Homo sapiens: one gene and its partner. Each later gene encodes a partner of the first gene's protein in a complex. Each region holds a gene or a part of one and is shown on either strand. Other genes may lie near its edges.

Evidence for each region.
Region 2: APOO (region 1) and MICOS13 share a complex: the UniProt entries of both Homo sapiens proteins name them as parts of the mitochondrial contact site and cristae organizing system (MICOS) complex.

The regions. Positions count from the first base shown.
Region 1 is NC_000023.11:23,859,331-23,863,135, forward strand, and holds part of APOO (MICOS complex subunit MIC26 precursor), read right to left. Parts: intron 1-3,805. UniProt on the Homo sapiens protein: Component of the MICOS complex, a large protein complex of the mitochondrial inner membrane that plays crucial roles in the maintenance of crista junctions, inner membrane architecture, and formation of contact sites to the outer membrane.
Region 2 is NC_000019.10:5,677,668-5,681,988, forward strand, and holds MICOS13 (MICOS complex subunit MIC13 isoform 2 precursor), read right to left. Parts: upstream 2,850-4,321; 5' UTR 2,820-2,849; coding exon 2,791-2,819; intron 2,584-2,790; exon of another isoform or gene 2,483-2,583; coding exon of another isoform or gene 2,388-2,482; intron 2,097-2,387; coding exon 1,919-2,096; intron 1,730-1,918; coding exon 1,678-1,729; intron 1,564-1,677; coding exon of another isoform or gene 1,556-1,563; exon of another isoform or gene 1,231-1,555; intron 982-1,230; coding exon 884-981; 3' UTR 755-883; downstream 1-754. UniProt on the Homo sapiens protein: Component of the MICOS complex, a large protein complex of the mitochondrial inner membrane that plays crucial roles in the maintenance of crista junctions, inner membrane architecture, and formation of contact sites to the outer membrane.

The DNA of each region.
Region 1 (3,805 bases):
ATAATCACTAAAAGAAACCCATTAGCAGTCATTCCTCAACTCCCCCGTACCGTCCAGCCCTAGGCAACCATTGATCTACTTTCTATCTCTATGTGTTTGCCTACTCTGGATATTTCTTTTTTTTTTTTTTGAGACAGAGTTTTGCTCTTGTCACCCAGGCTGGAGTGCAATGGCGCAATCTTGGCTCACTGCAACCTCTGCCTCTCGGGTTCAGGCAATTCTCTTGCCTCAGCCTCTCGAGTAGCTGGGGTTACAGGCACACGCCACCATGCCCGGCTAATTTTGTATTTTTAGTAGGCATGGGGTTTCGCCATGCTGGCCAGGCTGGTCTCGAACTCCTGACCTCAGGTGATCCACCCGCCACGGCCTCCCAAAGTGCTGGGATTACAGGTGTAAGCCGCTGCGCCCGGCCCTCTGGGTATTTCATATAAATGGAATCATGCAGTAAATATACGGTCCTTTGTGACTGGCTTCTTTCACTCAGCACCAAGTGTTTTCAAAAGAACACCTTTTTTTCCCTAAGAGAGCAGAAAAAAAGATTATTTTAAAAATAAACAAATGAGTATTTTGGTTTCTAGGGTTTATGTTCTTTTATAGCAATCTGGCTTCCTATATAAATACTAAACACAAGCGTTCTTCTTCTCCCCTTTCTGCAACCCCGTTAAAAAAACAGTAAGAAAAAACATTAATAAACCCACAATGAAGAGAAAATGTGTGGAAGGGCCACTGGCAGAAAGGAAGTGTCAATCAATTTTCAGAAAATGGAGAGTGAACGGAAATAAGAGGACACACTGCCTTGAAATCTTGAAATCTTGAGGAGGAGTGCAGCCTCAGAGGGAGCAGATCTGTCCCAGGCAGCCCCAGGGAGATTCCAGATCCAGAGATGGCAGGTACCATGGGGAGTGGAGATGGCAACCAGGGAGCAAGACAAGGGCACAGGACAAACGCAAGTCCGATGCATGGACCAGCATGGCCTTTCCTTCCCCTATGCCATCCCAGTACAAAACTACCCCTGGCCAGGAAGTCACACCAGTTCAAAATGTTAAAAAACCCAGTAAACCAGGGTTACTGGGTGTGGTGGCTCACACCTGTAATCCTAGCACTTGGGGAGGTCGAGGCATAAGGATTGCTTGAGGCCAGGAATTGAGACCAGCTGGAGTAACATAGCGAGACTCCATCTCCATTTCTTTTTTTTCTGTTGAGAGAGGGCCTCACTCGGTCTCCCAGGCTGGAGTGCAGTGGCACAATCATGGCTCACTGCAGCCTCGACCTCCCAGGTTCAAACTATCTTCCTGCCTCAGCCCCTCAAGTAGGTGGGACAAGAGGTGCAAGCCATCATGCCTGGCTAATTTTTTTTTTTTCTGTAGTTTTTGTAGACACGGGGTTTCCTCATGTTGCCCAGGTTGGTCTTGAACTCCTGAGCTCAAGCAATCCACCTGCCTCAGCCTCCCAAAGTGCTGGGATCACAGGCATGAGCCAGTACGCCCAGCCCCCCATCTCTATTCCTTTAAAAAAAAAAAAAAAATGAGCCTGATGCAGTGGCTCACACCTGTAATCCCAGCACTTTGGGAGGCTGAGGTGGGAGGACTGATTGAGCCCAGGAGTTTGAGACCAGCCTGGGCAACTTAGGGAGACCACATCTCTACAAAAAATTAAAAAATTAGTAAGGTGTGGTGGCATGTGCCTGTGGTCCTAGCTACTCAGGAGGCTGAGGCTGGAGGATTGCTTGAGCCCAGGAGTTCAAGGCTACTGTGAGCTGTGTCTATGCCACTGCACTCCAGCCTGGGTGATAATTTGGATGTTGTTCTCTCTGAATCTCATGTTAAATTGTAATCCCCAATGTTGGAGGTGGGGCCTGGTGGGACGTGACCTGATCATGAAGGTGGATTTCTCACAGATGGTTTAACACCATTCCCTTGGTGCTGTCCTTGTGCAACAGTGAGTTCTCTTGAGATCTGGTTGTTTAAAAATGTGTGACACCTCCCCCACCTCTTTCTCTTGCTCGCACTCTTGCCATGTGAGACACCAGCTCCCCCTTTGCCTTCCACCATGATTGCAAGCAGCCCAAGGCCTCACCAGAAGCCGAGGAGATGCTGGTGCCATGCTTCCTGTACAGCCTGCAGAACTGTGAGCCAACTAAACCTCTTTTCTTTATAAATTACCCAGTGTTAGGTTATAGCAATGCAAGAATGGCCTAACACATTGGGTGATAAAGCAAGATCCTGTCTCAAAAAAAAAAAAAAAAAAAAAAGAGTTAAAACAGTGGGGGCAGGGTATCACTAAAGAAACACCATGGATTTCCTGCTGAGAACCAAGAGAGCTGGAAGGGGTGAGTATGTCAGTGCCTGAGAGAAAAGCCCTCCTCACACTGGCCCTGGGTGCACCCTTGTATATGGTCACTTCCTGCCCAGCTCCCCTGAGGTAGAACCTGCCCGTCAGTGGGCCCCATGTACAGACAGGGAGTTCTTTTTTTTTTTTTTTTTTTTTTCCCGAGACGGAGTCTTGCTCTGTTGCTCAGGTTGGAGTGCAGTGGCGTGATCTCAGCTCACTGCAACCTCTGCCTCCTGGGTTCAAGTGATTCTCTAGCCTCAGCCTCCTGAGTAGCTAGGATTACAGACACCCTCCACCACACCCGGCTATTTTTTGTATTTTTAGTAGAGATGGGGTTTTCCCATGTTGGCCAGGCTGGTCTTGAACTCCTGACCTCAGGTGATCCGCCTGCCTCAGCCTCCCAAAGTGCTGGGATTACAGGTGAAAGAGTTCTTATTAGCATTTCAGCTGCCTCACTTTGAAACATGACTGGATAACCAAGAATCACCAGTCATTTGTGGAAAGCCTGAAACATAAAGGAGAAAGACCAAGACAAGCACAAAGGAAACAGAAGAACTTCAAAACAAAACTAAACCTATTACTAAGTATCATCAAATAAATTTTAAAAGCCACTACATTAAAAGAAAAAAATAATTCTATGAAAAAAAGAACATTCAAAGAACAGGAAGGAGCTCTTGGAAATGACCAAAGCAAAAAAAATTCAAAAGGAACAAAATAAAATAATCAAGAAAATATAAGAGACACATAGGGTCCTTTTAAATAACTCAATTGCTAATTAATGCGTTGAGGAAGGAAAAAGAATGAGAGTAAATTTTCAAAGATACACAAGATAGGCTGGGCGCAGTGGCTCATGCCTATAATCCTAGCGCTTTGGGAGGCTGAAGAAGGAAGACTGCTTGAGCTCGGGAGTTTGAGACCAGCCTGGGCAACATGGTGACACCCGGTCTCCACAAAAAAAAAAATTAGTCAGGTGTGGTGGTGCATGCCTATAGTCGCAGCTACTCAGGAGGCTGAGATGGGAGGATTGCTTGAGCCTGAGGAGGTCAAGACTGCAGTGAGCCCTGATCATGCCACTGCACTACAACCTGGGTGACAGAGTGAGATCATCTCTCAGAAAGAAAAGAGAAGAGAAGAGAAGAGAAAGGGACGGGACGAGAAGGGAAGGAAGAAGGAGGGAAGGGAAGGGAGAAGGAGGGAGGGGAGGGAGGGATGCAGGGGATGGAAGGGGAGGGAGGAGGGAAGGGGAGGGAGAAGGAGGGAAGGGGAGAGAGGGAGGGGAGGGCAGGGAAGGGAGAAGGAGGGAGGGAGGGAGGAAAAGAAGATATTTTCCTTCAGCTGGATGCTGCAAGCCGCCATATTGTTTGGGCAAGAATGAAAACACTATATCCAAGGCTGGGCATGGTGGCTCATGCCTGTAATCCCAGCACTTTGGGAGGCTGAGGCGGGTGGATCACTGGAGGTCAGGAGTTCAAGA
Region 2 (4,321 bases), on another chromosome or scaffold:
ATCCTACGGAGGCCTCTGGCCCCACCCAAGCTCCCCACCACCCCCATGTGTCTGGAGCCACCAGACTGGTTTCTGGGCACAGGCCTCTTGCCATCACCCAACCCCGTGGATCGCCCTCTGTGGCTGGGTGCTGGGAGCCTCCCAGGGCTCATGCCTGATGCGGGGGAACCATGCAGGCTGCCAGGTAGCCTGGCCAGTGTGCGGCAGGGGTGTCAGGGAAGGCGTCCCAGGGGAGAGGCAATGTCCGGGAGACCCTCTGAATGGCAACAAACACCTGGATTTCCTTCAATGACCAGGATTCCCCTGCTAGGGTTGTCGGGAGAGGGTGGAATGAGGGTGGAGTCCGGCCAAGGAAGGGCCGGGACAGGACTGCGGACAGGAGCTGAGGAGGGCAGGAACCAGTGGCCCTGGGGGCTCCTGCCCTGTGTCCCGCAGGGAAGCAGACCCCACTTCTATCCACTCTGGCTCTTCCACTGTCCTACCCTGGTCTCAGCCCTCCAAAACCAAGACCCTCCACAACCCAGGCTTGGCCAAAGCACTTTCCTGGCCCCAGAGCACAGCCTCTGGAGCACCGGGAGCAGCCGCTCTGACCTCTGACTCCCCGCACCAGAGCAGACGGCAAAGGGGAGTGCTATGGCCTGTGGTCAAGGTCAAGCCCTGACAAGCCATCAGGAGCCAGAAGCCCAGGCCTCGGTGCTCTGGGCACCACCAGGCCAACCCTGTGCTCCCTGGGGCCAGCACACGGGTCAGGGAACACTTCTGAAGTCCTTTATTGGGCCGGCAAGGCCGGGAGCTGCCCTCGGAGTGGGGTCCCAGTCCGGAGTCTTCAGGTCAGTGGCAGCCCTGCCCGTTCTGGCCGGGGCAGGCGGCCCCTGCTGACTCGCTACTTGGTGCGCGCCTTCACATACTCCCAGCCCTCCTTGGAGTACTCGCGGGCCTTGGAGGGGGCCACCGACAGAGCTGACATCACCGTCATGATGCCTGTGGGAAAGGGACGGCCACTGGTGATACTCCCCTCCCAGCCTCACCCAGCCTCCAACCCCTGGGAAACTCTAGAGTTTGTTTTGGGCGGTGGGGGGTGGGTGGGGGGCGGGGATGGAGTCTCACTCTGTCTCCCAGGCTGGAGTGCAGTAGTGCAATCTCGGCTCACTGCAACCTTCGCCTCCTGGGTTCAAGCGATTCTCTTGCCTCAGCCTCCCAAGTAGCTGGGACTACAAGTGCGCCACCATACCAGGCTAATTTTTGTATTTTATTTTTTTGAGATGGAGTCTCGCCCTGTCGCCCAGGCTGGAGTGCAGTGGTGCAACCTCGGCTCACTGCAACCTCTGCCTCCTGGGTTCAAGCAATTCTCCTGCTTCAGCCTCTCAAGCAGCAGCTGGGATTACAGGTGTGCACCACCACGCACGGTTAATTTTTGTATTTTTAGTAGAGATGGGGTTTCACCATGTTGCCCAGGCTGGTCTCGAACTCCTGACTTCAGATGATCCGCCCACCTCAGCCTCCCAAAGTGCTGGGATTACAGGCGTGAGCCACTGTGCTCGGCCTCCTTTCCCTTTTAGATCCCTAAGAGACACGTGTCGGGCAGGAAGGAGGATGGACAGAAAGGAATGGCCAGGAAGTGGGGAGAGGGGCTAGACTGGGGTGTCTCCCTCCAAGCAAAGAAACTGGGTGCCTTACCTGCATTCCAGGAGTCACGGATGGGAAAGTAAATCTTTGGAGGGGCTGGGAGCTGGGAAAAAGAGATGGGCAGAAAGAACTGGTGAAAAGGCTCAGCAGCCCATCCCCAGAGGCGGAGGGAGGAGGACAGGCCGGAGAATCAGGTCAGCATCAATATGGAGGACAACATCGTGCAGGGCTGGAGGGACCTCCCAGAGCTGACCACCCGCCAAACCCTGGCCTCGTTCCCGGCCCGTAGTACCTGGGGTATCTGCAGGCCTGTCTGCTGACACACGTACTGGCTGAACTGGTACATGGCGGGGGGGACCACCTCCCCAGCCTTCTGTAGGGCTGCCTGGCTCTTGTCGCTGGGCCCCAGCAGCTCCTGGTCGTACACCAGGTAGACGGCGCCCCCAGCCACACTTCCCTTGATGAGGAACCTGCGGGCAGGGACGGGAGGAGCAGAAGCTCAGCGGACACTGACAGCCACCCTCAGGGGCCAAGGCCCACGGGGAGAGTGAGACCCTCCTGAGGGCTCACCGTCCACAGGGTGACACTCTGTAGTGCAGCACCGTCGACCCAGACCCCTATTATATACAGCACTCGTTTTACAACGTGCAAGGCAGGGCGGCTGGACGCCACTTGAACTGATGAACTGAAACCCAGAGGGGGAGAGTGGGTCACTCAAAGTCCCACAGTGAGCAGGGGCAGTGAAGACGTAAGATCTTGACCTTCTAGAAGCCTTCCAGCCCTGGAGAAACCAAGTGTCCCTGGGCGCCTCCTGCCCGCTGTCACTCGCAGCTCCGAGCACGCATTCACTTCTCATCCACGCCAGCGGCAGGATTCACCGGCATTCCCACCTCACAGAGAAGACAACTGAGGCTCGGAGGCGGAGGCTGACACCGCGAACTGAACGCCAAGGGCTCGCTGGGAAGCAGGAGGGAGGGGATTGGCGACCTCGGGAAGCCCCGCCCCTCTGAAGCCTCAGTTTCCCTATCTGGCCCATAGGCGGGGAACGAAGGGGAAGTGACTCTAAGGGAAGCGAAGAGCAGATCGGGACCAGACTGGAGACAGGGATGCCCACAAAAATGGACTTTTTCGGGGACTCGGGTCCCCTCCGGCGCCCCCACGCACCTCATCAGCGACCACACCCGGGCCACCATGGTCGCTCGGATCCACGCGCAAGGACACTCGGCTCGCCCGCCGCTTCCTGTCGCGGCGCCGCAGAGGCCTCTGGAAGGTGTAGTCTTTCTTGCCCGACGCAAGGTCCTCTGGGAGTCGTGGTGTCTTGCGGCTCTGAGACTCCAGAGAAGGGCTGCGGTCTCGCAGCGGAGGGCCGCTGGGAAATGGACGCTTTAAGGCCCGGGCCGCCGCAAGGCTGTCTGGGAAATGTAGTCAGCACGGCGCTGTTTGCACCTGGCCGCGGAGCCTCCTGGGAAATGTAGTTCGGCCCGGCCCTGGCACCGTGAGGGGAAAGAGGCGTCAGGTGCCTGGCTGAAGCCTGAAGGTGACCCGAAAACAAGTCAGAGCCCGAGAGATCCACCCGCGCCCGCGCGGGGGACCAAGGGCCCGGATTTAAGAAGAGTGTGCCTACAAGGCGGTTGTCACGGCAACGAGAGGGCGGGATTGTTCGAGCGCTGCGGCCCCCTCACGTGATCGATTCGGAGGCGGGGCGTCCGCCCAGTGGGCGGGGCCGGGCCCCTGCTGGGAGGCGAAGACCAGGCGGGCACTGTTGCCCGGCGACGCTCCGGCGCTGGGTCCCCGAGGCCCGGCCCCTCCCCGGGAGGAGGTGGGCTTCGAGTCACGTGACCCGTGCCCTACGGGAGGGGGTGCGGTCGGGGACCCGGCAGGAGGCGGCCGAGAAGAGAGGACCGTGGGGGCGTTCGCGTGGCTCCCAGCCCGGGACCCCACCCCCGCTGGACAGTGGGGGAAACTGAGGCCTGAGCGGGTGAGTGCACGGTTTAGGGGTGCGCAGAGGGTCACACGCCCGCTTTGTTCAGAGGGGAAGCTAAGGCCCGCCGAGGTCAAGAAGGGGCCGATGCGTTCTGCAGGGCTTCCCCCCATTTCTCCCGCATTTCGGCCGGGCTGCTTCAACCGTTCATCTGCCCATCCATCCATCTGTCCCCCACCCGTCTATCCATCTGGCCATCCACCCATCTATCCTTCCATCTATCCATCCACACTTCCGTTCATCCATCTGTCCGCCCATCCATTCATCCATCTGCTCCCCCCATCCTTCCACTCATCCATCTGTCCACCCATCCATCTATTTATCTGGCCACCCACTCATCTATCCGTCCATCCATCCATCCATCCATCCATCCATCCATGCATCCGTCCGTCCATCCATCCATCCATCCATCCATCCATTTATGTGTTCCCATTTATCCATTCATACATCCATCCACTCATCCATCTATCCACCCATACATCTCTCCGTCCATCATCCATCCATCCACCCATCCATCTATTCATCTGGCCATCCACCCATCCATCCTTCTATCTATGCATCCATACATGCATCTGTCCATCTATCCATTCATCCATCCACCCATCCGTCCACCCGTCAGTCCATCTGGTCCCACTTCCCCCTGCCGGGCTGCTGCAGTCAGTGTAGAGCTGGGGGTGGAAAGAGGGATGAGCAGAGGAGCTTCATGGGCTGTCC